Regions from separate parts of the Homo sapiens genome. Here regions 2, 3, 4 and 5 are each linked to region 1. Evidence: fine-mapped expression QTL. A gene starts in region 1. Each other region holds a variant in brackets. All regions are shown on one strand. Distances are from middle to middle. Region 1 holds the start of NSUN6 (NOP2/Sun RNA methyltransferase 6). Region 2 overlaps MRC1 (mannose receptor C-type 1). Region 3 overlaps NSUN6 (NOP2/Sun RNA methyltransferase 6). Region 4 overlaps NSUN6 (NOP2/Sun RNA methyltransferase 6). Region 5 overlaps NSUN6 (NOP2/Sun RNA methyltransferase 6).

The links. PIP is the estimated chance that this variant, and not a neighbour inherited with it, causes the effect.
Region 2: its variant is fine-mapped to the expression of NSUN6 in lymphoblastoid cells (GEUVADIS, PIP 0.91).
Region 3: its variant is fine-mapped to the expression of NSUN6 in whole blood (INTERVAL, PIP 0.96).
Region 4: its variant is fine-mapped to the expression of NSUN6 in whole blood (TOPMed, PIP above 0.99).
Region 5: its variant is fine-mapped to the expression of NSUN6 in whole blood (INTERVAL, PIP above 0.99). The same link has a PIP of 0.9 or more in monocytes after interferon gamma.

What each region holds. Positions count from the first base shown.
Region 1 is chr10:18,648,130-18,654,202 of GRCh38, reverse strand. It overlaps NSUN6 (NOP2/Sun RNA methyltransferase 6), which reads left to right and starts at 2,616. Exons shown (of 11, transcript NM_182543.5): 1 at 2,616-3,074; 2 at 5,558-5,713. The coding sequence starts at 3,000. RefSeq lists an enhancer at 2,377-2,476.
Region 2 is chr10:17,812,897-17,818,969 of GRCh38, reverse strand. All of the region lies in intron 1 of MRC1 (mannose receptor C-type 1), which reads right to left. Among named protein-coding and RNA genes, the nearest start is that of MRC1, 6.6 kb to the right of the region's middle. The variant A/T (reference allele first, on the strand shown) is at 3,405.
Region 3 is chr10:18,592,296-18,598,368 of GRCh38, reverse strand. NSUN6 (NOP2/Sun RNA methyltransferase 6) reads left to right here. Exons shown (of 11, transcript NM_182543.5): 7 at 2,042-2,161. Among named protein-coding and RNA genes, the nearest start is that of CACNB2-AS1, 56 kb to the right of the region's middle. The variant A/G (reference allele first, on the strand shown) is at 2,306.
Region 4 is chr10:18,616,473-18,622,545 of GRCh38, reverse strand. The region is part of intron 3 of NSUN6 (NOP2/Sun RNA methyltransferase 6); the gene reads left to right. Among named protein-coding and RNA genes, the nearest start is that of NSUN6, 32 kb to the left of the region's middle. The variant A/G (reference allele first, on the strand shown) is at 2,660.
Region 5 is chr10:18,565,367-18,571,439 of GRCh38, reverse strand. All of the region lies in intron 8 of NSUN6 (NOP2/Sun RNA methyltransferase 6), which reads left to right. Among named protein-coding and RNA genes, the nearest start is that of CACNB2-AS1, 29 kb to the right of the region's middle. The variant G/ATGGAG (reference allele first, on the strand shown) is at 3,041.

The DNA.
Region 1 (6,073 bases):
AATCGCTTGAACCCAGGAAGCGGAGGTTGCAGTGAGCCGAGATCATGCCATTGCACTCCAGCCTGGGCGACAGAGTGAGACTCGAGGGCAGTGATCACCTAAATCAGTGTTTTATCAACCTTTTAAAATTATCATCCCCCTAAAGAGCCTTTCTAGACATTTTTTCCTGCTAATTCTCCCATACCCTTACCATGAAATTAAATGCTCAGGAGTGATTGTTTTGGTAAGGTTAAGCTTTGGAGTTCCACAAACTAAAAAGAGTGAGATTGTATCAAAAATTGTTTCAGTCCTCCCTGAGTTCCCCACACCCTGGGGAGCCATGTCGCCCATATGAAGAACTTGTAGCCTAAATAAATCTTATATGGGTGTATTCATAGAGTAGTTTTCCTTTGCTTACATAGCACATATCTACTATGCCAACCTCTTGTTTTGTAATATGCTTTTCTTGGATCCAGCCTTAGAATCCCAAGAGATATCTTCGTCAACATTAACTGTCATTACTATAACATCTAGTCAAGAATAGTCTAAATGGCTGGGTGTGGTGGCTCACGCCTGTAATCCCAGCACTTTGGGAGGCTGAAGTGGGTGGATCACTTTGAGCTGAGGAGTTCGAGACCAGCCTGAGCAACATGGTGAAACCCCATCTCTACTAAAAATACAAAAATTAGCCGGGCGTGGTGGTGGGCACCTATGATCCCAGCTACTGGGGAGGCTGAGGCAGGAGAATCACTTGAACCTGGGAGGCAGAGGTTGCAGTGAGCTGAGATAGCACCACTGCACTCCAGCCTGAGCGACAGAATGAGACTCCATCTCAAACAAACAAAAAAGTCTAAATGTCCTCAATTCTGTCCGTGTGTGGCACTAGTGAAGTAATTTCTGGCAAATGCTTTATCAGCATTTTCTTTCCATAGTTTATAGAGATGTTCATCCATCTTTTCATTTAGTCATTCAGTAAGTATTTGAGTGCCCATTATGGATTAGGCTTGGGTACATAGTGGTGTGATAAAGTCTCTATCCTTGTGGAGTTTAAAATGTAGTTCAACTTGTTTCTCCTCCTTTATCGCTAAAATACAGATTCTAGCCATCAGTGGTGCTATGGTCACCATGAAATTCAGGCTACAGAAATTCCTTTGGAAATGTCTGATTTAGACATTTATCACTTTCAGATGTTTTAGCCATGAAAGAATCTCATGGATTTATTGAAGAAATATGCTATGGTCAAGGACAAGGTATTGGCTCTAGAAGCCAAATTACTAGTCTTTATCCTGGCTTTTTATTTGTGAGAACATGGAGAGTTGTTTCAACCCTAGGAACCTTGATTTACTCTTTAAAACAGAGAAAATGGGCTGGGCGTGGTGGCTCACGCCTGTAATCCCAGCACTTTGGGAGGCTAGAGAGTCAGATCAGTTGAAGTCAGGAGTTTGAGACCAGCCTGGCCAGCATGGTGAAACCCCGTCTCTATTAAAATTACAAAGATTAGCTGGGCCTGGTGGCACATGCCTGTAATTTTAGCTACTCGGGAGGCCAAGGCAGGAGAATCTCTTGAACCAGGAGGTGGAGGTTGCAGTGAGTCGAGATCCCACCATTCCACTCCAGTCTGGGCGACAGAGACTCAAAAAAAAAAAAAAAAAAAGAGCAGAGAAAATGATAAACAACTTGCAGGTTGTTGTGTGGTATAATGGTCATTCATTATTTTCTACTCTTTCTGGTAAAGAGTTGGTGTGTCATGGAAAGTACCTGTTCTATGTGTGTGTGTCTGTGTGTATAATTCGGTGTGAAAATTAAAGAGAAAAAAACAATAAAAAACCCTTTCCTATACTTATGTGTAAATTACCATGGTGTGCTGCAAAAAACATATGTCAAGGTGATAGAATTATTTTGACTTTCCTGTACAGTTATAAAATGACTCAGTGAGTTTGGTTAGATATCCTCGTTCTTTGAATCTATATCCTTGTCTGCTTATGATGAAAAAAAAGAAAAAAAAATAATGGCGAGGGTCTTCCAAACTCTAAAGAATATGTCAACTATGATACAAGTAGCAGTTAGCCTTATAACTAACTGTAAACACTGTCTGTGGGTTTTAAGTTTTACCTGAGCATTGGATATTAACAGACCATTAGCCCAACTTTCAAAAATATGAACCCTATGAACTTCACAACTGAAGTCAGATCTGTATGCCTGAGAGAGGTAAAATCATGTCATGAAATCAAACGGTGGCTGATGCGCCCAAATTCTGGCCTCATCCTCTAACTGGAGGACATCTGGCAGGACAGCAACTGGGCTGTGCCTTTTTTCAGTCCAGCAACATCTTCCACTCAACCCACGCCATTTGGCTGTTTCCCCATTGCCCCTGGCACCTAGCCCTCCGGTACCGGGAACTAAATATCTTTGACCATCCCGCCCGCGGGGTCTGCCTACTTAACCTGAGGCAGGTGAAAGAGCCTCACGCAGGGTTAGGAACCTCCGGGGGCGTGGCGTAGCGTAACGCAGTGTTGGGGAAACTTGCGGCTGTGGATTGGGGGACCGGAAAGGGAGGGGTGGGCCGCAGGCGCCGGACGTGACGTAAGCCGGAAGCGACTTTCCGCCGAGAAATAGGGGGCGCGTGTTTGGAAATTGATAGAAAAGATAAAGGGACCGAGCTGCTGTCAGCCTGGCTTACTGATCTGCGTCCGTTTCACCACGGATTCAGTTACTAAGCATTTTTTTCTTTTTTTGGTTCTTTGCAACGTGAGTGGCATTGGCTCAGTGATTTCCATGAGCATCTCTACCAGAAAACATTGCCTCGATGAGGTGTGGTGGAAGCCCGGCAGCCCCTTCTAATCGGCTAGGCTTGAGAAAGCGTGTACCTCTGCATTTCCGAAATTAACTCAGCGTGATCGGCAAGATTTTCCTCAGCATCTGGTGTCAAGACACTCGTCACTATTAATTCGGAAAGAAAAAAAAAAACAAAACACCGTTTTCCAGCATTTCTCTTGGTGGAGAACTAAACAACAGGAAAAATGTCTATTTTCCCTAAGATATCTTTGAGACCTGAGGTTGAAAACTATCTTAAGGAAGGCTTTATGAATAAGGAGGTAGGTCAAGTAAAGATGTTAGTTGATATTTTGCAAAAACTCAAATATTCGCACACTCGAGAGAAATAGAAATAAGTATAAAGGGAAATCTTGACAGCCGTCGTTCCTTACTACTTGTCTATCAAGTGTAAAAATACCAATATGTTTCTACAGGTATTAAAGCTTACTGAGATACGAAGTGAATAAGGTATATGTTTTAACATTTAGGAGTGGAAAAGAAGGGAAAAAAGGCATGTGCCTGTCAGGCATGGCACAAAGGGTTACAAGGATGAACAAGAAAAGGTCCCTGTCTTCAAGAACTCGAATCGAATTTTAAAAGAGCGCTGGCTCTGGCACTCAGGTGAAAAGGTTTCTGTAATTTGTTGAGTGCCTCTTAAATGCCAGCAGTTGTGCTAGGAGATTTGCATCTTTAATCTTCACAATCTTTTTTTTCTTAGAGGTTTTTCCTCTTTTAATAGACTTGAGCAGAAAACTGCTCAAGGAATTGTGTAACTGATCCAAGTTGACACAGCTATCAAGTAACTATTGAAATCTGGAGGGAAAGAGTTCAGGTGTAATGAACAAAGGTACAGCTTTTGAATCTCAGGCACATGATTTGCATTCTAGTGCTTTGTAAATTACGTGGCTTAACCTAGATTTTTCTCTTCTGTGAAAAATTGAGAATGGTTAAAAATATCTTGCCAGGTTGTTTTAGGATATTAAACGTAAGTGAATACAACTAGCATTGTTTTGGCATGTAAGTCCTCAAAAAATGTTAATTTTATTTGCTAAAGTCCTCAGTAAATGTTGATTATCTTTGATTGCAAAGCCTGTTGTCTATTCCATTTTACCATGCTGCCTCTAAGCAACTTTGTTTTTTTTCAAATCTTTAATTTTTTAGTCAAGTTAAAAATATTTTACCAGGTTGTTTTAGGATATTAAACGTAAATGAAAACAACTTGCATTGTTTTGGCATGTAAGTCTTCAAAAAATGTTAATTTTGTTTGCAATTGGCAGTGCCTGCCACAGAAGTCCTCAGTAAATGTTGATTGTCTTTTATTGCAAAGCCTGTCCTCTCTACCACTTTACCATGTTGCCTCTAAGCAACTTTGTTTTTTTTGAAATCTTTAGTTTTCTTAGTTAGAGTAACACCACTTAAATGTTACTCATTTTTGAATATGTTATTGAAGCCATGCCTTTTAGATTTGATTTCTACGTTTCATTTCCAAAGATTAGCTTGAGGTACTAGACTGTATGGAAAGAGAAAATATATTCTGTTGATTTCAAGGGACTTAAAATATAAGGCACATATTAGGAGAAGTAGGGGCATACCACAATTTTTTCAGCAGATTTTAAAATGGAGAACGTCGTTTTATAAAGAAGATCCAAACGTCTTTCTTTGACACTGCCTCTGCCTCGAGTCTCATCAGTGGTATGGTTTTACAAAATGAAAAGCTATGCCTTTGTGAAAAGTACTGAAGGGAAAGGAATATTAAGTTTTATGCCTTTTTTTTTTTTTTTTGAGACAGGGTCTCCCTCTGTTGCCCATGTTGGAGTGCAGTGACATGATCACAGCTCACTGCTGCTTCGACCTCTGGGACTCAAGTGATCCTCTCACCTCAGCCTCCCGAGTAGCTGGGACCTCAGACAGGGGCCACCACTCTGGCTAATAATATTTGTATTGTTTGTAGTGATGGGGTTTCACCATGTTGCCCAGGCTGAATGTTCAGTTTTGATAAGACTAAACCTTGAGAAAGTATGAATACTTTTAAGGCTGGTGCATGAGTAGGCTAACAAGTGGTTTGTGAAGATTCTGTAAAGCAGGGTTTAGTCAAATAGGAAGACAAAGAAATACGTTTCTTGAAAAGCTTCGGTTAATTACAAGGGAATATTGTTGAGTCTTTATACCGTCATATTTGACAGGTGTCTTTGCTACTCATCTTTTTTGGATAATATATATTTGTTACATTTAATAACACCATATTAAAAAGCTGATGTCCTAGGGGAATCTTTATATGACAGTGACTATATCAATATTACTTATTTTTTAAATATTGGTATTTTAAAAGGATACCAGCCAGTTTGCTCTTGGATATGATGTTAGCTAATTAGCTAACGTCCAACTAACTTGGATATAATGCTAGCTCTACAGAGATGCTGTAATGGTAATGCATTATAAATAGACTGAATTCCTGAATTTATGTGAATAAATGTAGCAGATACTAATATTTGGAAAATGTTCATAATGCTTTGAAGTTTAGGCAATGTTTTTCTAAGCCCTTTATTTCAGGCATTTTCTTAGGTGTTTATTACCATGTTGAAGCCCAAGAACCCCGTGAAGTATTACTATTTCCTTAGTTGCTATTAACATATAAACAATACAGCAAAATAGAATGGAGCTGAACAATTGCTAAGCGATGTTTCATTAGATGGAATTAATATATAAGGATGCTCTGCTGACTGTTTTTAATTCTCAGGAAATTTAAACATGAACTTCTTTTTAGATTGTGACTGCTTTAGGTAAACAAGAAGCAGAAAGGAAGTTTGAAACTTTGTTAAAGCACCTGTCACATCCTCCATCATTTACAACTGTCAGAGTGAATACACATTTAGCCTCAGTACAACATGTGAAAAATCTGTTACTTGATGAACTTCAGAAGGTTTGTGGAAATTTTCTGTCATTTGTACATAATTACATTTTTGCAATCTACCATGTTTTCCATTAAAATCCTATGAATGATATAATACACTTCCAGTTTTACAGATAAGGAGATTGAGGACCATGAATGGTAAATTCTTCAAAGTTATCCTAGGTGGTAATGCTAGAACTTGAACCTAGTACTTCTGATTCTAAATTTATTCATTTTTGGTGACTAAAATAGCTCATTAAACCCCTCTGGGCCGCATTAAACTGGGCCTTAGTAGCTTCATCATTAAAATACATGTGAAGAAGTCCAGTCTAACCTTAAAAACCTGTGGCTTTGTGATAAGTAGCATATAATGACCAGGAGGACAGATGG
Region 2 (6,073 bases), 840 kb after region 1:
GAAAGGGAACAGTGACCTGTCTGCCCTCACCACCAACCACACCACCTTTCAGCTCCTCAAACTCTCCAGGCTCACTTCCACATTAGTGACTTCATGTTTTGAGTTCCCTCTTCTTGGGATGCTCACTAAGGTCACAGCTCAAGTGTCAACTTTCCTTTTCTTTCTTTCCTTGAGACAGACCCTTGCTATTTCACCCAGGCTGGAGTACAGTGGCGCCATCTTGGCTCACTGCAACCTCAGCCTCCTGATTTCAAACCATTCTCCTGCCTCAGCTCTGGGATTACAGGTGCATGTCACCACACCCACCTAATTTTTGTATTTTTAGTAGAGGTGGGGTTTCACCATGTTGGCCAAGCTGGTCTCGAACTCCTGACCTCAAGTGATCCGCACACCTCGGCCTCCCAACGTGTTGGGATTACAGGTGTGAGCCACTGCGCCCAGCCAAGTGTCAACATCGTAGCAGGCTGATCATCCTAACTCATTTTATTCTTTTATTTACCATATAATATCCATAACCATCTTAAAATATATTTTTCTTCAATTTGTTTACTAATGTTCTGTCCATAGTCCCCTACTGGAATGTAAATTTCATGAGACGAGGTACTTGATCTTTCTGATTTAGTGCTGCAGTCTCTTTTTGGGGAGCATAAATAATCTCTCAACAAATAATTAGTTGAATGAATGAAAGAATGTTTATTAAGCGGAAGCATCTTAACTAGTAACCCAGATAAATTATTTATCTAATGATAGATTAATGATTACAGGTATGCTGAATATTCATTTTTCCCCTGAAAGCTTATTTTTACTGAAGAGCAATTTAGAAATGTGTATACTTACAAAAAGGGTACTTGGAAATGAAAAGGTTCTGTTTCAATACACACTTATCTATTCTTGTTTCCTTTATTTATCTTTTGCCATTAGGAAGCAGTGTAAGTTTGATATTGCCTTTGCCAGACAATACAAGGAAATGTAAAATTATTGCTCTATGGTGATACATTCATCGTGCATTATTCTTCTCCCCAAGTAATCAGCATGTCATTTTGCCTTTATCATCATCTCTGCAACATGTCTGACTTAAAATGTCATACTTCTTCCTCTGAAGGCGTATTCAAGACGTTGGCCAAAAGGCAGCTTGTGGCATTTTTACCAATATTAACCACACCAACATTTATAAACATTCTATTTTTGTCCATACCAATTATGTTTTTGTAACAGAAATACGGCAAAGATGAACAGATCGACACAGTCGATCTGTTTTAATTTCTCTGCAATCTCTTTTGTAGGATCTAATATGTGAGTTTCTTTTTTTAATACTTACACATCAGAAATTTATATCCAGAATTGCAGTGATTCTCCTTCCATCCTAACTTGATCTTACTAATTTCACATTAATTTTTCAACAAATACTTGACAAACAATGACCACACGCCAGATGCTATGCTAATGACAATACAAAGACAAACAAAAGACATAAGTTTCCTGCCATGTTGAGCACACTCTCTGCTGTGGTTAACTCAAAGGCAAAAAGATCAAGGATCAAAATACATTTAGTAAAGAAGCAATAAGTTTCAACCCAATATCTCAGGTTAAAAATGATTAAAGACTAAACATCCAGTAACATGCAATAAGTTTCAACCCAATATCTCAGGTTAAAAATGATTAAAGACTAAACATCCAGTAACATAGGTGTGGATTTTCTTTCTTTTTTTTTTTTTTTTTTTTGAGACAGAGTCACTCTGTCGCCCAGGCTGGAGTGCAGTGGTGTGATCTCAACACGTTGCAACCTCCGCCTCCCAGGTTCAAGCGATTCTCGTGCCTCAGCCTCCTCAGGAGCTGGGACTATAGGCATGTGCCACCACACACCCAGCTAATTTTTGTATTTTTAGTAGAGATGAGGTTTCACCATGTTGGCCAGGCTGGTCTCGAACTCCTGATCTCAAGTGATCCACCTGCCCCGGCCTCCCAAAGTGCTGGGATTACAGGCATGAGCCACCGCGCCTGGCCTGGATTTTTTTTAAGCATTTTTAAAATTATGCCGCAACATTGAACAAGTCATTAAATTCCCAAGCCTACTAGCAAAGAAAATTTGGTTATTAAAGGTGATTGTTCAGGGAGATAAGTATGATATGCTACATTTTCTTATACATTTTTAGATTTTCCTGACTATCAGCAAATAAAATGCTGACATTGGAACACAAAAGACAATAACTTCTGGAAGACAGAGAAGCCAGATAAGAGGAAAAGCAGCAAGTAGCTGTAGCAGATGCCTCCAGATTTATACTATTTCTCCTCGGCCTTCGCTGTTTAGGTGCATGCAGGCCCCACTCCCAAACGCCAGCACCACGCCTTTTGCCCTGGGGGCTTTTTCTGGCTATCAGAGCCCTCTAGGCTCAAACATGGCACAAATTAGATGGGTCAGAAAACGAATGCCCTGTAGGAGGAAGCCTTCATCAGAGGCCAAGGAGAACCGCTGACGGCTCTAAATCTCTTGTACCTTGGATGTGATGAGTCCAAGGCAACCATTCCACACCGTCGCCCAGAGCTCCTACACTCCATTGCCCACAGCGGTCACTGGGTGTCCACACACCTTCCCTTTCTGTCTCACTTCCCCGTTACCCTGTCAGTGTTTCCTGGGCTCACTTCCCAAATAAACTAACTTGCCCTCAAACCAGAGTGCAATTGTCTGAGGACAGCTTCTTGGGGAATCCAAACTAAGAAATATGTTCACCAGCCTCAGTTAAATAAATGTACCTATGTTTTCCCCAAAGACCCCAAATTCAGTGAAAAACAAATATTTACCCTGCACCTAGTACATTCAAGAAGCTATGCCAGGTGCTGGGGGCTGATGGAGGGTGTTAGTCAGTCTTAGGCTTAGAAATGTTGAACAGGAGGCCAAGGCAGGCGGATCACCTGAGGTCAGGAGTTCGAGATCAGCCTGGCCAACATGGTGGAACCGCGTCTCTACTAAAAATACAAAAATTAGCCTATGTGGTCGCACATGCCCGTAATCCCAGCTATGGGGGGCTGAGGCAGGAGAATCTCTTGAACCCACAAGGCGGAGGTTGCAGTGAGCCAAGATCGTGCCACTGCACTGTAGCCTGGGCGACAGAGTGAGACACCATCTCAAAAAAAAAAAGAAAAGAAAAAGAAATGAAATGTTGAACAAAAGAAAAAAAAACAGAGAATTACTTCATTTGTCACTTTGATCCTTCATTCAGACCCAAAATATTCAGGGAAACTACTGATTTAGGTCATTGCAACTGGCCATTTGGAAAAGTACATAATATGAACCCAGTATGGGTCTGACCACAAGGACAAAACAGAGGCCAAGAAACTCTTCCAACTTCCCTCCTACCACCTTAAAGATATGAATATCTACACCTTCCCGGGGCCATTCGCTCCCA[A/T]GTCAGTAGAAGAGGCTTCCTTCCTCCTGCTGACCGCCCTACCTGTGTCCTGGACTGTGAACCCTCCTACTTCTCCACAGCTAGTTTCTGCTCTCACTCCTATTTCTTCAGCCTCTGAATGCCAGCCTCCCCAGATCCCCCTTAAGATAAATAAACAAAACCCTTTACTAGGTAAGAAGCTGACACCACACTGCTCTTTCTTCTTCCATGCATAGCCCCACTAATTCGTTCACCTTATGTATGTATCATGTCAATCTGATCATGACATAATCAGAGCTCTAGGATTTGGCTCCCAGGTAACAGACTCCGCTGCTCGCTGACTGTGTGACCTTGGCCAAGTTCAACATTACTCTGTGCTTCCACTTCCCCATCTGTAAAATAAAGGGGGAAATAGCAGGACCTCCTCATTGTCGTGAGAATGAAATGAGATCATCTAAATAAAGTGCTTAGAAGAGTTCCTGACACAGGAATTGCTTAATATATATTCATTATTATTATTGTTAACTTGGCAAAATCAGTCGTACAGACAGTGTGAGATGTTTCAGAATAAGATGAAATGAAAGAGCAGAGAACTGTTGCAGCAGTGCAGAAAGAGGGACCGGCCAGGCACGGTGGCTCCCGCCTGTAATCCCGGCACTTTGGGAGGGCAAGGCAGGAGGGATCACCTGAGGTCAGGAGTTCGAGATCAGCCTGGTGAGCATGACCAAATCCCGTCTCTACTAAAAATACAAAAATTAGCCTGGCAGGGTGGTGCACGCCTATAATCCCTGGAGAATCACTTGAACCCAGGAAGCAGAGGTTGCGGTGAGCCGAGATGGCGCCACTGCACTCCAGCCTGGGCGACAGAGCGAGACTCTGTCTCAAAAAAAAAAAAAAAAAAAAAAAAAAGAGGGACGGAAGGACCGAGAACACGGAACTGCAGGGTTTCTAGCCTCAGGGGATGTGGTGTGGAGGGTTATCTTCTTTGGGGTTGATAGGCTTGCAATCAAATCCTGGTTCCACCATTTTTTAGCTGTGATGCCTTAGTGCTATTAGCCATTCTAGCCTCTACTTCCTCATCTGTAAAATGGGGACAATAATGCTGTCTGGTAAAGCTACCGTGAATTTCTAAATGAGATCATTTATGTAAAGCACCCAGCATATTATCTGCATCTAATACACACTTGATAAATATTAATTCCTTCCTTTCCCCCTCTTGAAGTGAAAAGTCTAAAAAAATTGATACAGATAAAGGGATCTAAGTCCTTCTTCTAACATAGTGTTATTTTGAACCACATTATATCTTTCCTGATCAACACACTCCAGGTAGTAAATTTATCTACTTCTTAGCCTCAGAGTCTAAAGATCATAATGAAGAGTTAGCTCTGGTCTTTACTGACTACCTGACTTCTGCAAGCCACTGAATCTTCAGAGCTTCAACTTTCTCACATAGGGAAAGGTGCACAATGACATCTTCCCATCTGCTTTATGGGAAGCTATGGGTCCCTGAGGTCTAAGTTTCTACTACAGTTATTCATGTGCAATATTTGTAGATTAAACCAAAAGCTGCACAACTGTCAAAACCTAAGGTTGAGCATGGTGGCTCATGCCTGTAATCCCAGCACTTTGGGAGGCCGAGGTGAGCAAATCACTTGAGCCTAGGAGTTTGAGACCAGCCTGGACAACATGGCAAAACCCCATCTCTACAAAAAAACACAAAAGTTAGCCAGGCATGGTGGCATGCACCTGTGGTGCCAGCTACTTAGGAGGCTGAGGTGGGAGAATCACTTGACCCCGGGAAGTCAAGGCTACAGTGAGCAATGATCATGCCACTGCACTCCAGCCTGGATGACAGAGTGAGACCCTGTCTCAAAAAAAAAAAAAAATATATATATATATATATAATGTGTGTGTGTGTGTGTGTATATATATATATGTATATATTTATATATATAAAATCTAGCCCTATGTTCCAAAGCATAAAAGTTAGCTCAGCCTTCTAGATACAAACACTGAGAAAGATGGAGAACAAATTTAAAAAGGAGAAAGGTGCTTGTATTTTTCTCCCACTTAATTCAGTTTTGTGAAAAAATACACTGAAGAATCAATATTTACCATAAGACATACATTTATATTGGAATCAAAGTTTTCAAGAGTGCTTGTGAAAAACCACTACTGTGATAATCACATGATAATAATTATCTTTCTTAGCATTTCAACGAGGGAAATGAAATAGAGGAGTATCAGGATTATACCATTAGCGTGATGTCTATGTCAGAACCACAGTTGGATCCCTTCCAGCCAAATGTGAGACCCGCAAATGGCAACAGGAATAACCTAATTTGCACTTACTTGATCTAACAGCGCAGCAAGAAATCTAAGGGGATGTGGAAAAGTACAAGCCGTTGAGCAAAGTCCTGGATCTACATCTACCTGCTAAACAGTCACCTTCTGGACATTTTACCTCCCTGAGCCTGGTGCTTCATCTATAAAATGATGATGTCAAAATGCATCATTTCCTAGTTTGTTCTTGCTTTAATGGTCTATGATTCTAAGGCTTCTCTGTCCACCAAGACGTCTCTCATTATCATTTTTTGCAGATGTTCTAGGCTTTTCATGATACTACCTGACCCACTGTTTGAGCGCCTTCCCAGAGCCTAGAAAGGCTCCATATTGCCCTGGGACCAATA
Region 3 (6,073 bases), 56 kb after region 1:
ACCACCAAACAGGCTTTGTGTGAGCAGCAAGGCTGTTTATTTCACCTGGGTGCAGGCGGGCTGAGTCTGAAAAGAGAGTCAGCAAAGGGTGATGGGATTATCATTAGTTCTTACATGTTTTGGGATAGGCGGTGGAGTTAGGAGCAATGTTTTGCGGGCAGGGGTGGATCTCACAAAGTACATTCTCAAGGATGGGGAGAATTACAAAGAACCTTCTTAAGGGTGGGGGAGATTACAAGGTACATTGATGAGAGTGGGGCAGAAACAAATCACAATGGTGGAATGTCATCAGTTAAAGCTAATTTCACTTCTTTTGTGGATCTTCAGTTGCTTCAGGCCATCTGGATGTATACATTCGGGTCACAGGGGATATTATGGCTTAGCTTGGGCTCAGAGGCCTGACACTTAGCTCTTTGGGTGCCTAAATTGTTTGCATTGATTTTAATGCTTCATATATTCAGAGGAAGAAATTTGCTTGTTTGAAACTGCTTTCTCACCACTGAGTTTGTTTCAAAGTGGTGATCTTAGATTCCCTTGAGAATGTTGTAGCCATCTCACAGTTTTTTTGTATGTTTGTATGTATTTATTTATTTATTTATTTTTAGATGGAGTTTCGCTCTTATTGCCCAGGCTGGAGTGCATTGACGCTATCTCTGCTCACTGCAAACTCCACCTCCTGGGTTCAAGTGATTCTCCTGCCTCAGCCTCCTGAGTAGCTGGGATTACAGGCATGTGCCACCATGCCCAGCTAATGTATTTTTAGTAGAGATGGGGTTTCTCCATGTTGGTCAGGCTGGTCTCAAACTCCCGACCTCAGGCAATCCTCCCGCTTTGGCCTCCCAAAGTGCTGGAATTACAGGCATGAACCAGCACTCCTGGCCATCTCACAGTTCTTGAGGGTGTACTAATGGATGTATTGTTCAGTCTTTTGGTAGGAATGAATTGAAACCTTTAAGCTTTAAGAGGCACAATTGTGAGGATCCCAAATTTGAACCCAGCTTAAGCAAAATAATGAGACTCTGTCTCCAAAATAACCAAACAAGTAACTCCATGCTTATAAGACTCTGTTTTTCTTGCCAAATAATTTTAGAAATGAGTTATTTTATGATACTGTTCTATCTGTTTTATTCAAGGCTATCATTCTATAGTAAGTAGTCCTTATATAATTGATACTAATAACAAATTAATGATTTAATATGACTTACTGCTATAGATGAGGTATGTTTTGGTTGTATAACCTCATAATATATATTTAGGTCCCAGTCAGAAACAGCCAGGGTTTGAGGTTTTTTGTTGTTGTCGTTGTTTGTTTGTTTGTTTTTGCATTTTAGTTCATTTCCTGTTGAAATGTGGTGGAAGCAGGGACCCAAACATGCCTTTTGGGTGATTTAGCAGCATAAAACAAGGCATCTTAAATGAGAGTTAGATGATGAGGCGGCCAAAATGGCAAAGTTATATTCTTGGTTAACTGGAAGAAACCAATTATTTAATATTTATGTGTTCCCAAGTGGAGTTTAAATTATTAAAGTGAACAATGCTGAGATTGAAGTACTCTCAGATGATATGTCTATATGAAAATGGCATGCTTTTGTACTAAAATGCTGAGTAATGACCGCTGAGACCAAAATTTTGTACATTTTTTGGGAAAAAAGTCCAGAGTGGTCCTGCAATTTTAGAGGTCTCTGGCTTCCAGAATATTGAGAACCATTGGGATTCAGAAAAGGAAATAATATGGGTTATTTATTTATTTATTTTTTGCTGGTACCCAGAAAATACTGATAAGGCAATTGAGTTCAGTTGACTTGAAAATTGTGTCATGTATATTTTTGCGCAGGTGGTTTGTGTGTAAGTCCTGGGAGATCGTAGGATATTCTAGGAAATTGTGAATTTCCTAACCTGAGTATATTTATAAAAATTGTCCTCTTAGCAGACGTGAGGATGCTGTAGTGGATTACCCCCAAAGGGTTCTTTATATTCTCTGGTTCTCAAATTAAAAATGCTTTAGGATTATTGATAATCGATTACATTTTTTTCCTTATAGAATTTGCCATCTGCCTTAGTAAGTCATGTACTAAATCCTCAACCTGGAGAGAAGATTCTAGACTTGTGTGCAGCACCTGGAGGGAAAACAACACACATTGCAGCACTAATGCATGATCAGGTGAGACTGTCTTCACAGCAAATCCACTCTCAAAGTAGTGTATATTTCACAATGTGTAATTTCTGAAACATAGAGCCATTCACAGTCTCATTTAGTTCAGATTCAGCCAAAATGAAAACTATTCAGTTATGTCAGTCACTACAT[A/G]TTAAGCTCAGTAGACAATGATCATTTATGAAGACTGTCTCAAGACCGTCTTGAATTTTACAATTTGCTTATATGATTATAGACTTAATCTGTTAAGAAATTAAATTTAATACATTTAGATTATTTCATTTTCTTATAAGATTTCATAGTTGTTTAAACTATTAAAATATATTCTGCCATTAAAAACTAATTTCACAGTATATTATCAAAGTGTGAAATATGTATATGTTAAAATATATAAACATAGTTGTATAATACATAAACATATACACATACATATAGAATATTTACTATTTGAAGTTATCATTTTGGTCTAAGAAAGATCTCCAATAAAAAAGGATATTTTTTAAATACTGAGAATGAGAATCAAAAAAGAGAAAAGGATATTTGTTGTTTACATTTTGAGGAATGTAATACTCATTAGAGAGGATATACTTGCCTGCTTATTTATACTCTTCTTTGCCCCAAAAGAATTTAAGGTGGTAACAAAAACTCTTGAAGGAAAAATGCATTAAATACAACTAGGGCCTAAAATAAAGCACCTGAAATAAGAAGGGTTGATTTTGTGGCGTTGTGATGTTTAATGCAAATCATTTTTCACTTTATATGGAAGATTAAAGATTGATCATGATCGGCTTTGAGAAAGTGTTAATTCTCCATTAAATTATGGCATATTTATCGTATTTGCTTAAAGGTAATTATTCATAGAGATTTGGTTCTCTCTTAGTAAAAATGTCTTTCCAAAGGGAGTCTGGATATTATGGGTGTATCAGTTTTCTGTTGGTTTTATGATGTGTGAAGACACAAAATTTTGGCGGCATACAACTAAACATTTTGGGGGCTCAGGAGTCCATGGGATTCAGCTGATCCCTGCTGGGCTCACTCATGTACTGGTCACCTGCAGGTGAATTGGGTGTTTCTGATGATCTTGGGTGGGCCCATTCACTTGGTCTTGGATGGTTGTTGGCTCATCTAAAGTGGCCTCAGCTGAGATGACAGGGATGCCCTGCCTCTGGCCGATGTGTAAGTTCTCCCCTGATTGGGACCAGCAGGCTGGCCCAGCAGAGGGCAGTAGTTGGGGGCTGGTGATGGCAGAGAGCAAAGCAGAGCAAGTCCAACTGTTCAAGTGCTTTTCATGGTATTAAAAAAAACCTCTGCTTACATGACATCTACTGTCACCCTATTTATTGGCCAAAACAAATCACATGACTGAATCCCATCAGAGTGACAGCATATTGGATATTGCAGGATTATCTGGTGAAGAGTGAATATACATGGAAAGTTGAAGAATTGAGGCTATGTAGGCAGTCAGCCACAGTGGGGCAGCAATGCAGACACGAACAACCGGAATAGAAATATTTGAGCCACAATTGGATCACGAGGTTAAGAGATCGAGACCATCCAGGCCAACATGTGAAACCCCATCTCTACTAAAAATACAAAAAAAAGTAGCTGGGCATGGTGGCGTGTGCCTGTAGTCCCAGCTACTTGGGAGGCTGAGGCAGGAGAATCGCTTGGACCTGGGAGGCAGAGATTGCAGTGAGCCAAGATCGCGCCACTGCACTCCAGCATGGGTGACAGAGTGAGACTCCGTCTCAAAAAAAAACAAAAAACAACAACAACAAAAAAAAACAGAAAGTGTCTATCACTGAACCTGGTAGTATTTGAGGAATATTTACAAATTGTCTGCATTGTAGGCTATGCCATTGCTGCATATGGCATACAAGGGCAGTGTAAAAGAAAAGGGAAAACAAAGCAAGAAAATATATAGAAGAGTCATTCTCACTGTATTTGCAATTCCATTTCATAGTATGTTTTAAAATATATGAATGTCACCAGGCTTGCTTTCTTTTTTTTTTTTTTTCTCAGAGTCTTGCTCTGTCGCTGAGGCTGGAGTGCACCGTGGCCCAGTCTTGGCTTACTGCAACCTCCGCCTCCCGGGTTTGAGCGATTCTCATGCCTCAGTCTCCCAAGTAGTGGGGCTTACAGGTGCATGCCACCACACCCGAATAATTTTTGTATTTTTAGTAGAGATGGGGTTTCACCATGTTGGCCAGGATGGTTTCAAACTCCTGGCCTCAAGTGATCTGCCTGCCCCGGCCTCCCAAAGTGCTGGGATTACAGGCATGAGCCACTGTGCCTGGCCCACGATGCATTCTTAAAATTTTGGCCCTTTTTTTTTTTTTTTAATTGTGCTTTAAGTTCTGCAATACACCTGCAGAATGTGCAGGTTTGTTACATAGGTATACATGTGCCATGATGGTTAGCTGTACCTATCAACCCGTTATCTAAGTTTTAAGCCCCACATGCATTAGGTATTTTTCCTAATGCTATCCCTCCCCTTACCTCCAACCCTTTGACAGGCCCCCGTGTGTGATGTTCCCCTCCCTGTGTCCATGTGTTCTCATTGTTCAACTCCCACTTATGAGTGAGAACATGTGGTGTTTGGTTTTCTGTTCCTGTGTTAGTTTGCTGAGAATGATAACTTCCAGCTTCATCCATGTCCCTGTAAAGGACATGAATTCATTCATTTTTATGGCTGCTTAGTATTCCATGGTGTCTATGTGCCACATTTTCTTTATCCAGTCTGTCATTGATGGGCATTTGGGTTGGTTCCAAGTCTTTGCTATTGTAAATAGTGCTGCAGTAAACATATGTGTGCATATGTTTTTATAGCAGAATGATTTATAATCCTTTGGGTATATGCCCAGTAATGGGATTGCTGGGTCAAATGGTATTTCTGGTTCTAGATCCTTGAGGAATCGCCACACTGTCTTCCACAGCGGTTGAACTAATTTACACTCCCACCAACAGTGTAAAGGCTATTTCTCCTATTTCTCCACATCCTTGCCAGCATCTGTTGTTTCCTGACTTTTTAATCGCCATTCAAACTGGCGTGAGATGGTATCTCATTGTGGTTTTGATTTGCATTTCTCTAATGACCAGTGATGACGAGCTTTTTTTCATATGTTTATTGGCAGCATAAATGTTGTCTTTTGAGAAGTGTCTGTTCATATCCTTCGTCCACTTTTTGATGGGATTTTTTTTTCTTGTAAATTTGTTTAAGTTCTTCGTAGATTCTGGTTATTAGACCTTTGTCAGATGGGTAGATTGCAAAAATTTTCTCCCAATCTGTAGGTTGCCTGTTCACTCCAATGATAGTTTCTTTTGCTGTGCAGAAGCTCTTTAGTTTAATTAGATCCCATTTGTCAATTTTGGCTTTTGTTGCCATTGCTTTTGGTGATTTAGTCATGAAGTCCTTGCCTATGCCTGTGTCCTGAATGGTAATGCCTAGGTTTTCTTCTAGGGTTTTTATGGTTTTGGGTTTTACATTTAAGTTTTTAATCCATCTTGAGTTAATATTTGTGTAAGGAAGGGGTGCAGTTTCTGTCTTCTGCATATGGACAGCCAGTTTTCCCAGCACCATTTATTAAATAGGGGATCCTTTCACCATTGCTTGTTTTTGTCAGGTTTGTCAAAGATCTGATGGTTGTAGATGTGTGTTGTTATTTCTGAGGTCTCTGTTCTGTTACATTGGTCTATATGTTTTGTTACCAGTACATTGCTGTTTTGGCTACTGTAGCCTTGTAATATAGTTTGAAGTCAGGTAGCATGATGCCTCCAGCATTGTTCTTTTTGCTTAAGATTGGCTTGGCTATACTTGCCCTTTTTTGGTTCCATATGAAGTTTAAAGTATTTTTTTCTAATTCTGCTAAGAAAGACAATCGTGGCTTGATGGAAATACCGTTGAGTCTATAAATTACTTTG
Region 4 (6,073 bases), 32 kb after region 1:
GACAGGGTTTCACCATGTTGGCCAGGCTGGTCTCGAACTCCTGACCTCAGGTAATCTGCCCACCTCGTACTCCTAAAGTGCTGGAATTACAGGCATGAGCCACTGTGCGCAGCTGATTTCCATCTTTTGTAGTTGCCTTGTCACTCATGTCAGTACTGTCTTAGATTGTTTCTCATGGTTCTGGAGGCTGGAAATCCACGACGTGTGCCAGTATGCTTGGGTTCTGGTGAGTGCCCTCTTCTGCGATGCAGATAGCTGACTTCTCATTGTATTCTCACATTGCAGAAAGCAAGTGGGTAGCTCTTTGGTCTCGTATAAAGGCACTGATCCCATTTATGAGCATTCTACCCTCATAACTAATTACCCCTGAAGACTTCTCCAAATACCATCACATTGAGTTCGGGTTTCAGCATGTGAATTTTGGGGACACAAATATTCCATCCATAACAAGCACTTTAAGATTTCAATTTTTGTGTGTGTGTGTCTGTGTGTGTGTGTGTGTGTGTGTCATTCGTATATATATATATATATGTGTGAATAGGGTTATTGCAATAGAATATTTAAGAAATGCTGTTGCACAAGGACTACTGATTAAATAAAGGTGGCAGTCCTGCTGCAAAGAAGTATTTGGCATGCAGCAATATCATGTGCTGTTTCACAGTTTCATCCATCACCTTCCATTTGGTGTAGGGTTGTTAGTATGTGTAGGGTTGTGAATATGTGCAGTTAAAATACCAAATAGATAAAAATACATGATTTTAGATTCCTTAACAGGACATTCCCATAATCTGTTTTTAATTCCTTAGCTACTTCATTTTTTAGCTATTCTAATACTTTTCTCTCAATCTAGGTGTATTTATAGTTTTTTTCTCCAACCTATATTACTAAACTGTTGGAACGTAATCTTTCTTTAATGTTGTTGATGCACTCTATTTGGAAACATTTCAATAAAAATCAAGCTTTTAGCATATTTTATGGCCTTGCACCAACTTTTACGTTTGCTCTTTTAGTTTTCCTAGTAAAAACTCCCTTTCAACAATGCTGACTTAAATATTGATACTTGCATATGACATACTGTGTTTTTATATTGTCAGTCCTGGTGTCTATGGATCCCCAAGACCATTCCTTGGTTCTGTGATTCTCTAAGAGGAATTAGGGAATTCAGCACATACTTGTACTTACGGCTATGATTTGTTACAGTGAAAGAATATGAAGCACAATCAGCAAAGGGAAAACCATCACAAGCTTCCAGAGTCCTCTTCCAGGGGAGTCACACAGGACTCCCACAGGAAGTCCCCCAGTGCTGAGCTGTGACCACATGAGACTCACTGCCAGGATTCCTATTCAGGGCTCATCATGTAGATTCCCACTGCCTGGTACATACCCACATTCTGGATTCTCAGAAGGAAAGCTGGTATTTACTATAAATCATAGTTTGTTCAATAATTCAGGCACAGTGAGCCACTCTTAGCAGTTAATAAGTAAACCTCCTGAAATCTCAGTTCCCAGATGTCAGTCAAGGGCCAGCCTTGTAAGCAGGCTTTTCAAAGATAACAGATCAGGCCTACTATGTTAACTTTTTTCTGCACAGTTCTCTGTTCCAGAATTCATCCTTTCCCCTCCATGTTATTTTCATAAAATCTAACACTACAGATTTCACTTCCACAAAACATGTTTTTGAATTTGTGCTATATGTGAGATGTGATGGTGTTACAAAGATGAATGAGACATAGTTCTATAGTCTAAAGTCAGGAGACTTTGGTACAAGTCAGACTGTTATGATAGTCACAGTAGAAGTATAAATTAAATGCTATTGGAGCATAGAATAGGAAGGACTGAGTACAAAGAAATTGTTAAATATTTTCTCTAAGCAGATATTATTTCATTTGAGTCTTGAAGGTGAGGAGAAATTAGGCCGAAGGGCTGTTAAGGTGGGCAAGGTTATGCTAGGCAGAGAGAAGGCATGAGGAAAGACATGAATGCATGAAACATTGGTGGCTGCTGATAAAAGTGATCAGGTTTGGCTATTTGTTTTCAGAGTTGGGGGATGGGTGAAAGATGAAACTGAAGAAGTTGGGAGAGGCAGATATGAAGTATGAAGATTTTTTTGTACCAAGGAATTTTTTTTTCATAGACTTAAGAAGCTAAAGAATTTTTATTGTCGGGCGCAGTGGCTCATGCCTGTAATCCCAGCACTTTGGGAGGCCGAGGCGGGCGGATCACGAAGTCAGGAGATCGAGACTATCCTGGCTAACACGGTGTAACCCCATCTCTACTAAAAACACAAAAAATTAGCCGGGTATGGTGGCGGGTGCCTGTAGTCTCAGCTACTCAGGAGGCTGAGGCAGGAGAATGGCGTGAACCCGGGAGGTGGAGCTTGCAGCGAGCCAAGATGGCGCAACTGCACTCCAGCCTGGGAGACAGAGCTAGACTCCGTCTCAAAAAAAAAAAAAATTTTTTTTATTAGTAAAAATTAGATGTGTATTTTAGAAATATAATAGTGGTAGTGGTCTTCCAAACTGCTTGGAGATCATGACCCATTAGTAACTTGTGAAATCAATTTAATGTTTTCAATGAATATTTAAAAAAAAAGGGATGTTTTATAATATATTGCATCGCACATAGTAAAAATATTTAATGAAATGTTATGTGTGATACC[A/G]CACACACAGACATGTATGTGTAGTTTCTTATATCAAGATCTCAAATGATATAAAAACTTGAAATAAGTTCTTTTATCAAGTGTGTTTCTTACATCAACTGACAGTCAAAAGTTTCAGAAATTTTTTCAAAAGTTGAATTGCAAACCTGGAGAAAAGTTAGAAAAGTATTTCCGAGTTTTTTAGCTTCAATAATATGTATGGTGAATTAGATAACATGAAGATGTTTTTGCTACATACACCGAGGAGTGCTAAGTAAAAAAGAACATAGTAGGCCACAAAATGATGTAGTTGAGTGATTAAAAATGTAGTTGATATATTAGAGGTTAGGAATGCAGAATAATTGAAAAGAGAACAGCAAGCATGTGAGTTATTATTGGGGGGTTGAAGGTATGGGAAAGGAGGTGGTCTTTCTTCTAAATTTAGGGTCTTTGGTTTAAACAATTAAGTGTTAATAGTAAGGGTGAGAAATACCCAGTAGTCATTACAAGGCAGTAATTAAAAGTAGGTCTTTCTTGCCTTAGGATATAGGTTGGAGAAAAATGTGTTTCTGAGAATGCGCAGCCGTAAGTTCCCTCCGTCATAAAGGTCTGGAATGCAAATTGCTGCAACCTAAATTGGAACCTGCAAACTGGGAAATTAACTGTTTGGTCCCAAGCCAATTCCTGGGTACTTGGCAAAAACTAAGTGACACCACTCTGGAGCAGCACTCATTCAGTCCAAGCCAAACACTTGGCATTGTTAAAAGCTACACTGGGAATCAAACCACTATGAGTAAGAATCAGCATATATAATAAGCTGCAGGATTGGATTTCCCTCAGAACTTTTAACAAATAGACCTCTCTGGCATAGACTATAAAAACAGTTTTCTTCCAAGATCAGCTGAGATCGGGCATGTTCAGAGTGATATGGCTGTAGACAAAACAGTTTTCTTAAAATGATTAAAAATGAAAGAGTAAAACATAAAAGACCCTAAGGATAAAAAGGTAGAATTGAAAACAAATTTCTAAAAATAAATTATCATTAAAATTAAAAACTCATACAATGAATTAAACAGCAGATTAGACCCAACTGATGAGAAAGTTTTTGAATTAGGAGATGACTCTTAGGAAATTATCTAGAATGCAGCAGAGAGAAATTAAAAATATGAAAGTGAAATTGAGTCATGAAAAAGCACTTTACGTTTCTTTTTTTTTTTTTTTTTTTGAGATGGAGTTTTGCTCTTATTGCCCACGCTGGAGTGCAATGGCACCATCTCGGCTCACTGCAACCTCCACCTCCTGGGTTCAAGTGATTCTCCTGCCTCAGCCTTCCAAGTATCTGGGATTACAGGCATGCGCCACCATGCCTGGGTAATTTTGTATTTTTAGTAGAGACGGGGATTTCTTCATGTTGGTCAGGCTGGTCTTGAACTCCCAACCTCATGTGATCCACCCACCTCAGCCTCCAAAAGTACTGGGATTACAGGTGTGAGCCACTGCACCTGACCAGCATTTATATTTTTAATGAGTCTCAGGTATAGAGAATAGGAATAATGGGGGAAAGACAATAATCACAAGTGTAATGACCATGAATTTCTATCACTGATGAAAAATTTAAGAAGTGTGAGCTTGAAGCCAAAAGTAAAAGTAGATTCATGTCTACATACTTCAGAGTGAAGTTGCAGAACACCAAAGACAGAGAAAATCTGAAACCAGTGGTAAAAGGCAGGAAGCTATTTCAGTAATCACAAAGAGATATGTGTCCAACATCAGGAGATACGCCCACAAAACCTATCAGAACTAGAAGATAGCTTGATTCCTAAATCAATCAATGTGAAGGCTTAGGAGGACTTTAAGATGACGCTGAGTGTCTTAGTTTATTTTTTGCTGCTATAGCAGAATACCTGAGACTGGATAATTTATAAAGAACATAAATTTGTTTTTTGTAGTGTTGGAGGATACGAAGTCCAAGATCGAGGCATTTGCATCTGGTGAGGGCTTTCTTGCTGCATCTGTACATGGTAGAGGGCACAAGGGCAAGAGAAAGCAAACTCACTGCTGCAAGCCCTTTTTATTATAGCATTAATTCATTCATGAGGGCAGAGCACTCATGACCTGAACAGCTCCCAATAGGCCTCATATTCCAACACTGTTGCACTAGGGATTAAGTTGCCAGCACATGAATATTGGGGGACACATCCAGACCGTAACACTGAGGCATCTAGTTTGGTTATCTGGGCAGATAATGACGTCTCATTCAAGATTGGAAACAGGATGAAAAGATTTGGGATCCTGCCAAGGAGTGGAGGAATGGATGAGGGAAAACTGATTATTGTTTAGGACTTGTTGAGTTTGAAGTAACTGTGAGACGTCTCTATATAGCTGTCCGTAGGTAATTAGAAATACTAATTAAGAGTCTAAGCTGGGCGTGGTGGCTCATGCCTATAATCCCAGTACTTTGGGAGGCTGAGGCTGGTGGATCACCTGAGGTCAGGAGTTCGAGACCCACCTGGCCAACATGGTGAAACCCTGTCACTACTAAAAATACACAAGTTAGCCAGGTGTGGTGGCGAGCACCTGTAATCCCAGTTACTCAGGAGGCTGAGGCATGAGAATCACTTTAACCCAGATGGCAGAGGTTGCAGTGAGCCAAGATTGCGTCACTGCACTCCAGCTTGGGTGACAGAGAAAGACTTGGTCTCAAAAAAAAAAAAAAAAAAAACTAGAAAGGCTAAACATTAGAATTTGTGGATTGTTTTTGTGAGTGATTATTGAAATCATGAGATTGCCAAGGGATAGAATGCAAGGTGAGTAGAGATGGTCGCATGTTTTGGAACCTGGCGGGGAGAGCCTCTAAGAAGTAGGCAGAGAATGAGCAATGAGAATGTTTGGGACCAGGAAAGAGTGGGTATAAAGCTGAAAAATTAGTAAGATTTGATGAATTGGCGATCATGGAATTGAAGACAGGATGCACCTAATTCCCCCAGCAGTGAGTTGTGACAGCACATCCAAGGAAGCTTATTAGAGACTCATTGTTAAGGGTTTTTATTTAGGGCTGATCACATTGGGTCCCTGATCTTTGGAACCCTGAGTGTTAGAAGTAATACAGATTTTAGTGGTCTAAGAAATGAATGTGAGAAACTGGAAAAGACTCAAAAAGGTTGGGCAGCAAAGGAAGGAAAAAAGACTTATCTTCTTTTCCTGTCTTGTTTAAATTATTCATAATTTACCATGCAACAATTTACCACTTTAGAAATGTTTTTGTAATTCCTTGTGTATTTTTCTATTTTAGTCTTTGAAGACAGAGAAAGTCTATTTTTCTCCTAATGCTATGATAAACAGTAATGCTTGTTAAATGATTAAGCAATTTCTGGTGCCACTTTATTGCCTTCCAGCAGATGGACCTCTTGATTTTTTTCTTCCTCTCAAGTGCCC
Region 5 (6,073 bases), 83 kb after region 1:
AATGGAATGAAGAATGGAATGGAATAGAGAATGGAATGGAATGTAGAATGGAATGGAATGGAGATTGAACTGGAATGGAGAGTGGAATGCACTGGAGAATGCAAGGGAATGGAATGGAGAAAAGAAGGGAATGGAATGGAGAAAAGAAGGGAATGGAATGGAGAAAGGAAGGGAATGGAAAGGAGAATGGAGAATGGAATGGAATGAAGAATGGTATGGAACAGAATGGAGAATGGAAGAGAATGGAAGGGAATGGAATGGAGAATGGAATGCAGTGAAGAATGGAATAGAATAGATAGTGGAATGGAGAATGGAATGAAAAGTGGAATGGAATGGAGAATGGAATGGAATGGAGCATGGAATGCAATGAAATGGAGAATTGAGTGGAGAGTGGAATGGAAAGTAGAGAATGGAATGGAATGGGGAATTGAATGCAGTGGTGAATAGAATGGAATGGAAAATGGAATGGGAATGGAATGGAGAAAAGAGAACATGGAATGTAGAATGTAATTGAATGTAGAATGGAATGGAATGGAGAATGGAATGGAATGGAGAATGCTATGGAATGCAGTGGAGAATGGAAGAGAATGGAATAGAGAATGGGATGGAATGCAGTGGTGAATAGAGTGGAATGGAGGATGGTATGGAGAATGGAATGGAAGGGAGCATGGAATGGAATGGAGAATGGAATGGAGAATGGAATGAAATGGAGTGGAGAATGGAATGGAATAGAGAATGGAATGGAATGGAGCATGAAATGGAATGGAGAATAGAATGGAATGGAATGGATGATGGTATGGAGAATGGAATGGAATGGAGAATGGAATGGAATGGACAGTGGAATGGAATGGAGAATGGAATGGACACTGGATTGGAATGGAGAATGGAAAAGAGCGGAATGGAATGGAGGATGGAATGGAGAATGGAATGGAAAGGAGGATGGAATGGAATGGAAAGTGGAACGAAATGGATTGGAGAATGGAATGGAATGGAGAATGGAATGGAATGGAGAATGGAATGGAGAATGGAAGGGAATGGAATGGAATATGGTATGGAATGGAGGATTAAATAGAATGGATAATGGAATTGAATATGGAATGGAGCATGGAATAGAATGAAATGAAGAATGGAATGGAGAATGGTGTGGAATGGAAGGGAAAATGGAGAATGGAATGGAATCGAGAATTGAATGGAATGGAATGGAGAATAGAATGCAATGGAATGGGATGGACATGAATGGAGAATGGAATGAAATAGAATGGAGAATGGAGTGGAATGGAATGGAGAATGGAATGGAATGCGAAATGGAATGGAATGAAGAATGGAGAATGGAATAGAATAGAATGGGCAGTGGAATGGAATGGAGAATGGAATGGAATGCAAATAGAATGGAATGGAGAATGGAATAGAATGGAATGAATAGTGGAATGCAATGGAGAATGGAATGGAATTGAGAATGGAATGGGGAATGTAATGGAATGGGGAGTAGTATGGAGTGCAATAGAGAAAGGAAAGGAATGGAATGGAGAATGGAAGGAAATAGAAGGGAGAATGGAATGGAATGGAGAATGGAATGGAATGCGGAATGGGATGGAATGGAGAATGGAATGGTATGGAGAATGGAATAGAGAATGGAATGGAATGGAGAATGGAATGAAATGCAGTGGTGAATAGAATGAAATGGAGAATGGGATGTAATGGAATGGAGGATGGTGTGGAGAATGGAATAGAATGGAGAGTGGAATGGAGAAAGGAATAGAATATGGAATTGAATGCAGTAGTGAATATAATGGAATGGAGAATGGAATGTAATGGAATGGAGGTTGGTAAGGAGAATGGAATGGTGTGGAGAATGGAATGGACAATAGAATGGAAGGGAGAATGGAAAGGACTTGAAAATGGAAAAGAATGGAATGGAATGGAGGATGGAATGGAATGGATAGTGGAATGAAATGGAATGGAGGATGGAAAGGAATGGAATGGAGGTTGGTAAGGAGAATGGAATGGAATTGAGAATGGAATGGGCAATGGAATGGAAGGGAGAATGGAATGGAAAATGGAAGAGAATGGAATGGAGAATGCAATGGAATGGAAAATGGAATGAAATGCAATGGTGAATACAATGGAGTGGAGAATGGAATGGAATGGAGGATGGTATGGAGAATGGAATGGACTTGGAAATGGAGGAGAATGGAATGGAACGGAGAGTGGAATGAAATGGAGAATGGAATGCAGAATGGAATGGAATGGAGAATGGAATGGAATGGAATAGAGAATGGAATGGAGAATGCAGTGGAATGGGGAATGGAATGGAGAATGTAACGGATGGAGAATGGAATGGAATGTGGAATTGAATGGAATGGAGAATGGAATGAAATGGAGAATTGATTGGAATGGAATTGAATAGAGAATGTAATGGAAGGGAGAATATAATGGAAAGGAATGGGGAAGGGAATGGAATGGAGAATGGAATAGAATGGAGAATGGATTGGAATGGAATGGAGAACCAAATGGAGAATGGAATGGAATGGAGAGTAGAATGGATTGGAATGGAACAGAATGGAGAGTGGAGAATAGAAAGGAATTGAATGTAGAATGGAATAGAGAATGGAATGGAATGGAGAACGGAATGGAATGTGGAATGGAATGAAGAATGTTAGGGAGACTGCAATGGAATGTGAAATGTATTGGAATATGGAATGCAATGGAGAATGAAATGGAATGGACAGTGGAGTGGAGAATGGAAGGGAATGGAATGCAGAATGGAATGGAAGTGAATGGAGAATAGAATGGAAAAGAGAATGGAATGGAATGGAGAATGGAATGCAATGGGGATTTGAATGTGGAATGGAATGCAATGGAAAGGGGAATGGAATGGAAAGGAGAATGGATTGGAATGGAATGGAGAATGGATTGGAATGGAATAGAGAATGGTTTGGAATGGAATGGAGAATAGAATGGAATGCAATGGAGAATGGAATGGAATGGAGATGGAGCTGGAATGGACAATGGAATGAAATGGAGAATGGAATGGAATGGA[G/ATGGAG]AATGGAATGGAGAAAGGAAGGGAAGGGAATGGAATGGAATCGAGAATGCAGAATGAAATAGAATGGATAATAGAATGGAATGCGGAATGGAATGGAGAATGAACTGGAATGGAAAAAGGAATGGAATGGAGAATGGTATGGAGTGGAACAGAGAATGGTAGAGAATGAAATGGATAATGGACGGGAATGGAATGGTGAATTTTGTGGAATGGAGAATGGAATAGAATGGATAATGGAATGGAGAATGGAATGGCATGAGAAATGTAATGTAATGCAGAATGGAATGGAATGGAGCATGGAGTGCAATGAAATAGAGAATGGAATGGAATGGAACGGAAAATGGAGAATGGAGAATAGAATGCAATGGAGAATAGAATGGCATGCAGTGGTGAATAGAAAGGAATGGAGAATGGAATGGAATGGGGAATGGAATGGAGAAAGGAATAGAATATGGAATGGAATGGAGAATGGAATGGAAAATGGAATGGAATGCAGTGGTGAATAGAATGGAATGGAGGATGGTATGGAGAATGGAATAGAATGGAAAATGGAATGGAGTAGAGAATGGAATGTAAAGGAATGGAATGGAGAATGGAATGAAGAATGTAGAATGCAATGGAATGGAGAATGGAATGAAATGGAGAAAGGAATGGAATGAAATGCAGAATGGAATGGAGGATGGAATGCAATGGAGAATAGAATGGAAGGAGAATGGAATGGAATGCGGAATGGAATGCAATGAGGAATGGAATGGAATGGAGAATGGAATAGAGAATGGAATGGAATAGAGAATGGAATGGAGAATGGAATGCTATGGAGAATGGAATGGAACGGAATGGAGAATGGAAGAGAATGGAATGGAGAACGGAATGGGATGCAGTGGTGAATAGAATGGAATGGAGAATGGAATGGAATGGAGGATGGTATGGAGAATGGAATGGAATGGAGCATGGAATGGAATGGAGCATGGAATGAAATGGAGCATGAAATGCAATGATGGAGAATGGTATGGAATGGAATGGAAAATGGAATATGGAATGGAATGGAGAATAGAATGGAATGGAATGGAATGCATTGGTGAATAGAATGGAATGGAGGATGGTATAGAAAATGGAATGGAATGGAGAATGGAATAGAATGGAGAAAGGAATAGAATATGGAATGGAATGGAGAATAGAAGGGAATGGAATACAGTGATGAATAGGCTGGAAGGGAGAATGGAATAGAATGAAATGTAATGGAGGATGTAATGGAGAATGGAATGGAATGCAGTGGTGAATAGAATGGAATGAAATGGAGGATGGTATGGAAAATGGAATGGAATGGAGAATGGAATAGAATGGAGAAAGGAATAGAATATGGAATGGAATGGAGAATGGAATGGAGAGTAGAATGGAATGGAATGCAGTGGTGAATAGAATGGAATGGAGAATGGAATAGAATGAAATATAATGGAGGCTGGAATGGAGAATGGAGTGGAATGGAGAATAGAATGGACAATGGAAAGGAATGGAGAATGGAATGAATGGAATGGAGAATGGGAAAGAGTGGAATGGAATGGAGAATGGAATGGAATGAAAAATGGTATGGAATGGAGAATTGAAGGGAATGGGTAATGGAATGGAATGCAGAATCGAATGGAGCATCGAATGGAATGGAGCATGGAATGGAATGAAATGGAGAATGGAGTGGAGAATGGTGTGGAATGGAACAGAAAATGGAGCATTCAATGGAATGGAGAATAGAATGGAATGGGAAATGGAATGGAATAGAATGGAGAATGGAAGGGACTGGAGAATGGAATGGAATGGAGAGTAGAATGCAATAGAATGGAATGGAATGGAGAATGGAATGGATTGGACAGGAATGTAGAATGGAGTGGAATAGAATGGAGAATGGAATGGAATGGAGAATGGAATGGAATGGAGAATGGAATGGAATGCAGAATGGAATGGATTGCTGAACGGAATGGATTGTGGAATGGAATAGAATGAAGAAGAATGGAGAATGGAATGGAGAATGGAATGGAATGTGGAGTGGAATGGATTGCGGAATGGAATGGATTGTGGAATGGAATAGAATGAAAAAGAATGGAGAATGGAATAGAATGGGATGGAGAATGGAATGGAATGGAGAACGGAATGGAATGTGGAATGGAATGGATTGCGGAATGGAATGGATTACAGAATGGAATAGAATGAAGAATGGAGAATGGAATAGAATGGAATGGAGAATGGAATGGAATGGAGAATGGAATGGAATGTGGAATGGAATGAAATGTGGAATGGAATGGATTGTGGAATGGAATAGAATAAAGAATGGAGAATGGAATAGAGTAGAATGGAGAATGGAATAGAGTGGAATGGAGAATGGAATGGAATAGAGAATGGAATGGGGATTGTAATGGAATGGGGAATGGTATGGAATGGAAGAGAATGGAATGGAGAATGGAAGGGAATGGGAGGGAGAATGGAATGGAATGCAGAATGGAGAACGGAATGGAATGGAGAATGGAATGGAATGCAGAATGAACTGGAATGGAGAATAGAATGGAATGGACAATGGAATGGAATGGAGAATGGAATGGAGTGGAGAAAGGAATGGAGTGGAGAATGGAATGAAAGGGAGGATGGAATGGAATGAAATGGAGCGTGGAATGGAGATTGTTGTGAATATAATAGAGAATGGAATGGCATGGAGTGGAATGGAATGGAAGGAAGAATGGAATGGAATGTAGTGGAAAATGGGAAGGAATGGAGAATGGAATGGAAAATGTAACAAATGGAGAATGGAATGGAGAATGGAATAGAGTGCTGAATGGAATGGAGAATGGATTGGAATGGAATGCCACGGAGAATGGAGAATGTAATGTAATGGAAAATGGAGTAGAATAGAATGGAATGGAGAATGGAATGGAATAGAATGGAGACTGAACTGGAATGGAGAGTGGAATGAAATGGAGAATGGAATGGAGTGGAGAATGGTATGGAATGGAATGGAGAATGGTATGGAATGGAAGGGAATGAAATGGA